Linked DNA regions of Homo sapiens: region 2 is linked to region 1. A link means that fine-mapping ties the variant in region 1 to the expression of a gene that starts in the linked region. Tissue or cell type: whole blood. Region 1 holds a variant in brackets; the other region holds the start of a gene. All regions are shown on one strand. Distances are between the middles of the regions. Region 1 overlaps ATPSCKMT (ATP synthase c subunit lysine N-methyltransferase). Region 2 holds the start of ATPSCKMT (ATP synthase c subunit lysine N-methyltransferase).

Region 1 (2,916 bases):
TCTTCATAAGAAGACTGGAGCTACTGAAAAAGGGACAGACACTAGCTGCCAAAAACCTGGCTGAAGTCCACAACATCACATCCCCTCATCTCAGACTCACACAGGTGCTCTCTACACCATCACACTGTTTACTTCAGAGAACTCCACACACACTAAGATTCCCTTGCTTATTTGTTTGTCTCTCCTTTCCAGAATAGGAATTCCATGAGGCCAGGGGCTTTGCATGTCTATTTACCGCAGAATCTCAGAGCTTCTTCTACAGTAGATACTGAATACATATTTGTTGAATGAATGAATGTGTCCCCAGATGTTTCTCATTTAAATGAAAATGATCAAACTGACCAATTTTTATAAGTTTAGTTAAAGATGTGACCATCTTACTTCATTACATCTCCATTAAGACAGTTTGGTATTTCAGTTACAGGTGTATGACTGGGAGTTCAATTCTTTTCTGTGATAAGTACGAATGACTCAAGCTACCATTCAATATTCACTTTACAGATATATGAAGCTTGTCTACTCACGTTCAAAGGTTTTCCTTAATTCGTCTTTTATCTAAATCAGTCAAGTCTCTTCTCATAAATGAGAAATATTAAATGAGTGGCAGCTCTCAAGAAATAAAAAAGTGACTAGCAGAAATAATCTGCAACTTCTGTGAATAAGATTTTTCTCAGTGTCTAAAATAACAAACACCATTTATGGACCAAAGACTAGGTGCCATGAGTTTTAGAAATTGGTCCCCACTCCACTGTTATGTGTACCATTATCCCAGTGGCAGAGATACACAGAAAGCCAAGGCTCAGAGGCAGTAAGTCATGGGTCCGAGGCCTCTTGCTGATGACAAAACTGGAATCTGAACCCACGTCAGGCTTACATTTACACATACATGTATACAAATGTACACATATACAGCTTAGATTCCATAAAATACAGTAATCTAGTGGTGGAACAAATTATTTCTAATAAATGTTATAAAATATAAACGCCTCTCTGAATCCTTTAGAAAATTAATTTTGCCATGAAGTACAAAAAGGAAAGAGATACAACTTAAGTATGAACAAAGTTATAGGATACTACAAACAGTTGGTAATATATACTGTCTTTAAAAATCATTTCTCCTTATCGAGGCATTAAGCCATATTGTTTATAATGTGAAGAGCTATTGGCATCTTATTTTCCTACCCATAACCATGACCATCACTTATTCATCTTTTCATGCATCCAGGTGCATGGAAAGGCAGTAAGTACAATTTTTAAGAAAATAGCATCAAAAGCAGATTTTAAATCTACCTGTTTTTCTTCGTTTGTTTTCTCCAACAGTTAAGGAAAGTAATAGTAATTTCTCATTCCAAACCAAAGACAATTATGCTCCTTTGCTAAGGACACAGCTGTAAGTCTCTACAAGATCAGGGAAGACTACAATATTTCAGAAAAACACTCCCAGTCAAGTTTATGCTTGAATGGGCAGCTGGAAATGCATCGATGTACAGGGCCTCTTTTCACGGCCTCTAAAAGTGCTTGCATCATATGCCCACACTGTGTCTATCCCCTCCCCCGTGACGTGGTCTGGAGTCCAATGTGGGAAAGGGAACCGGCAAGCAATAACTC[G/A]TGCATCATCCTCAAGTTCACGTTCAAGTTTCTTCTCCAACTGCAGCATCTGTGGAGAGTAACAGCTATTATTTTAGTGAGCAGTGAGTCAGAGGAAATGATCCCAAAATTTCCTGTTTTTAAGAGTCCCTGAAAATACCTGAGCAAAAATTACTACTTGTTAAAAAGAGCACTCTGGGACACAAACACATAAACAAACAATCCATTGAAATACAGAAGATACACTGACAGCAGTTGTAAGAACACCTTCTAGTATTAATTATAAAATATGCCATTTTTAGCAGATGTCTATCATAGATTTATAGTTTTCTAAATAAAATCAGGATGTGGCAGTAATTTTAATAAGAAGCAGTTTTAAATAACGCACTTCAACACTTCAATATACCTAGTCTCATATATTTAAGACATTATTTTTCCACCATTTTTTAAGAGAGAGGGGTCTTGTTATGTTGCCCAGGCTGGTCTCAAACTCCTGGGCTCAAGCAATCTGCCCACCTCGGCCTCCCAAAGTGCTGGGATGACAGGCGTGAGCCACTGCGCCCAGCCACATTTTTGCACATTTTTAACATCTCTGAAATCAGGACACATCACACAACACTAATTGTCTTAGAATTATAATTAGCAATTTTTTTGTTTCTCAATAGCAATGGTGCATCCTAAAATCAAGATCTACAGTCAATGAAATGTGGTATAGTTAGACTATGAAAAAATATGCACAATTCTACCAACTGGAAATATCATGAAATATTTCATAATTTTTAAAAATGTATCCATAATATACTGATAATGAATTTCTTGATAGCCTAACTTATACCACCGTTGTACCATTTTATTATCAATCTACCAATAAAGAGTTTTTATTATTTGCTAGAAGTATTGATATTTTAATTACATCAGCAAATTAACAACTACTTAAAAACTTATCTGCAGATCCTAAAAATATATTACCACCTTCACCACCTTCACATCCTAAAAATAATTTTTTTCTACTTTCTTCTTTTAACTTGCTATTTTGGGATAATTTCAAACTTCCAGAAAAGTTGCAATAACAGAACAAAGAACTCCTGTATACCTATACCCAGGTTCAAATAATTTTTTTTTTTTTGAGACAAGATTTATCGCCCAGGCTGGACTGCATTGGTGTGATCTTGGCTCAATGCAACCTCCGCCTCCTAGACTCAAATCATCCTCCCACCTCAACCTCCTAATTTTGTAGAGATGGGGTTTTACCATGTTGCCCGGGCTGGTCCTGAACTCATGAGCTCAAGCCATCTGCCCACCTCAGCCTCTCAAAGTGTTGGGACTACA
Region 2 (2,916 bases), 22 kb after region 1:
CTATTTTTCACAACAATCGAAGGAGCCAAATGAATTGCAGAAGTCACCATTTTTAATGAGGAAACACTGAATTGGCAAAGCTAACGTGAAATAAGACCTGACTCCAAAATCTAAAATGTCCTTGAAGAACACTTCAAGGTCTAGCGCGTAAGTATGCCAAGCATGAAGAGTTAACAGATCACCAACCATCCCATGACAGTCAGTCCTCCCTGTTTTTAGAGACAGAATCTCGCTCTGTCGCCCAGGATGGAGTGCAGTGGCGCGATTATAGCGCACTGTAAACTGAACTCCTGGGCTCCACCCATCCTCCTGCCTCAGCCCCAGAGTAGATGGGAACACAGTCGCCAAGTCTGTTCTTGAGTTTCAGGACAGGGTCAAATGTTATAGTGCATGTATTCATTTCAGCACTTATTGAGTGCCTAATAAAGTCTGGGAATAATACAACTTTATTAGTTAAGTCCCTGCCCATGGCAGTAGGGGAGAAGCAAGGATGGAAACCCTCAACAAATAAATCTAAACCTATCAAATATTAAGTCATGATCTTGGAGGGCGGGGAGGAAGGCAGCATAAGAGATTTAGAGGACAGCTGCGGTTGCCAAGATCTTTCTGAGGCAGCATAATACAGGGCTTAAGAGTGAGACCTGCCGGGCACCGCGGTGGCTCAGGCCCAACACTTGGGGAGACCTAGACGGGTACATCACTTGAGGTCAGCCGTTCGAGACCAGCCTGGCCACTACGGCGTTAACACCGTCTCTACTAAAAATACAAAAATTAGCGAGCGTGGTGGTTCTGTGCCTGTAGTCCCAGCTGCCTGGGAGGCTGAGGCACGAGAATCACTGGAACCCGGGAGGCGGAGGCTGCAGTGAGCCGAGACCGCGCCACTGCACTCCAGCCCGGGCTACAGTCTTGTCTCAAAAAAAAAAAAAAAAAAAAAGAGTGTGGGACCCATTGCATCAGGCTGTGTAACTGTTTCTTACTAGCTGTATACCAGTGGCAAGTTACTGAACCATTTGTGCAAAATGTTAATTTATTTACCAACACTGTGTTCAGCTTGCCAGGCACCGTTCTCCTTGAATCTCACAGCAGCCCTGTGAGTAGGCACTACTGTTACCACCGTCACTTTGCAGACAGGGAACCCGAGGGACAAAGAAGTTAAGGGATTTCCTCAAAGCCACAGCTAGGAAGAGCGGCAGAACTGCGATTCCAATCCATCAGTGTGCCTCCACTATCCCTATTCCTTAAGATCGTGCCAAAGGCTGAGTCACTTGCACTAAGTAGCCTAGAACAGTCTCTGGGGAAACGCGCCCGCCGACAAGGATCGCCAGAACCGGCGCGGGCACCGCGCGGCGACCAGGAGCTCTGGTCACCGAAGGCCAGGCTGGAGGCCAGAGCAGCCGCCCGCACCCGGTCACCGCCTCGACAGTGGAGACCTCAGCTGACCGCGAGCCCCCGGCCCGCCCGCACCCCTTCTCATGCCCCCAGGAACCCGCCAAGCCGCTCCAGCCTCACCTCCTCCTCCCTCCATCGCGAGATTTCCAACAGCGTTTTTAAAAAAAAAAAAAAAAAAAAAAAAAAAAAAAAAAAAACCGGAAATGGGTCCTACCATCTTCTCGGAGCCGGAGTGCGAAGAAATAAAGAAATAGTGCTTTAAGTCAATGAATTCCTCCTTGGGACCCACTATCGAGAAACTATCAGTGGTAACGTTTTAAAAAATGACAAATTCAATCTGCTCTTGACTTGTGTGTCCTAAGATTTCCACTAAGTGTCTTCAAACCTCCCCCTCCCCGGCTTCCTGGATAATAGAAGTTCCCGAAGGCCGCCGATTCCAGAAGATACTGTCTGGCGTGAAATTAGTCTCAGTAGAAACATAAGTCCCGCGCGTCTTGTGCTGCGCGTGCGCAAGCTTTTGGGCCCTCCCGAGAAAGGGAAGTGCATTCTCGCTTCCGTAGCGGTCTCCGCCGGTTGGGGGGAAGTAATTCCGGTTGTTGCACCATGGCGTCCATGGGGACCCTCGCCTTCGATGAATATGGGCGCCCTTTCCTCATCATCAAGGATCAGGACCGCAAGTCCCGTCTTATGGGACTTGAGGCCCTCAAGGTAATGGCACAGGGACCTGCTCGCGGTGGGCTAAGGGGAGGTGGCCGAGGCCGTGGCTCTGCGCCTGCGCGAGTTGAGGAGCGGCTCTGCCATGTGCTCCCCGGAAAGGTCGAGAATCTCCGTCTCCCTGCGGTCTCCGGCCGCTCAGCCCGCTTACTGAGCTCGGGAGACGCCGGCGCCTAATCCTGGGCTCGGAATGTGGGGGCCAGCCAGGCTGGGCCGCCAGCGCCCTTCGGAGCTGGGTGGGGCCGCTCAGTCCGGTCGCCCGCGGGAGCAAAGCGGGACCGCCTCCCCGCCCGGCTCCTCCAGCCTGACGGCCGCGTGGGACTGCGCTCCAGTGGGAGGGCGCCGGGGAGATGCTCTGTCACCTGTCGGTTAAGGCGCTGCTGCTTAACCTTTCGCTGGTCCACCCGCAACGGCCCTTCCGTTTTCTTTGTCACTCGTAAAGGTGTGGTCACTTAACAGGGTATTTCATTTCTGAGTGCTTTTTTGCCCACCCTTGAGGAAAAATAGCGAAGAGTGAAAAACGGACGCACATAACCGTAATACAAGGTGGTGTGCAGTGAGAAGGACAGCTACGGAGAGGGTGCACATAAGCGTGGTGCTGGAGGACAGCTTTAGATCGGGGTGAGAGGTAGCATTCTAGGGAGAGGAAACGGTAGAAGTAAAGGCTTGGGCAAGAATGCGCATGGCACGTTGTAGAATGGAAGAGCCATCCGGTTTTAATGGAGCACTGACTTCTTTAACTTACAATAGTTCCCGAAGGTGGAAGCTATTGAATGCCCAACATGGAAAATACGACGTTATCTTTGGGGAAGA

Evidence for each region. PIP is the estimated chance that this variant, and not a neighbour inherited with it, causes the effect.
Region 2: it holds the start of ATPSCKMT, and the variant in region 1 is fine-mapped to the expression of ATPSCKMT in whole blood (INTERVAL, PIP above 0.99).

Annotation. Positions count from the first base shown.
Region 1 is chr5:10,225,991-10,228,906 of GRCh38, forward strand. It overlaps ATPSCKMT (ATP synthase c subunit lysine N-methyltransferase), which reads right to left. Exons shown (of 5, transcript NM_199133.4): 5 at 1-1,657. The coding sequence ends at 1,451. Among named protein-coding and RNA genes, the nearest start is that of ATPSCKMT, 22 kb to the right of the region's middle. The variant G/A (reference allele first, on the strand shown) is at 1,609.
Region 2 is chr5:10,248,349-10,251,264 of GRCh38, forward strand. It overlaps ATPSCKMT (ATP synthase c subunit lysine N-methyltransferase), which reads right to left and starts at 1,540. Exons shown (of 5, transcript NM_199133.4): 1 at 1,510-1,540. The coding sequence starts at 1,525. It overlaps CCT5 (chaperonin containing TCP1 subunit 5), which reads left to right and starts at 1,932. Exons shown (of 11, transcript NM_012073.5): 1 at 1,932-2,097. The coding sequence starts at 1,993. RefSeq lists silencers at 1,310-1,429, 1,440-1,499, 2,250-2,319, 2,390-2,529, 2,860-2,916.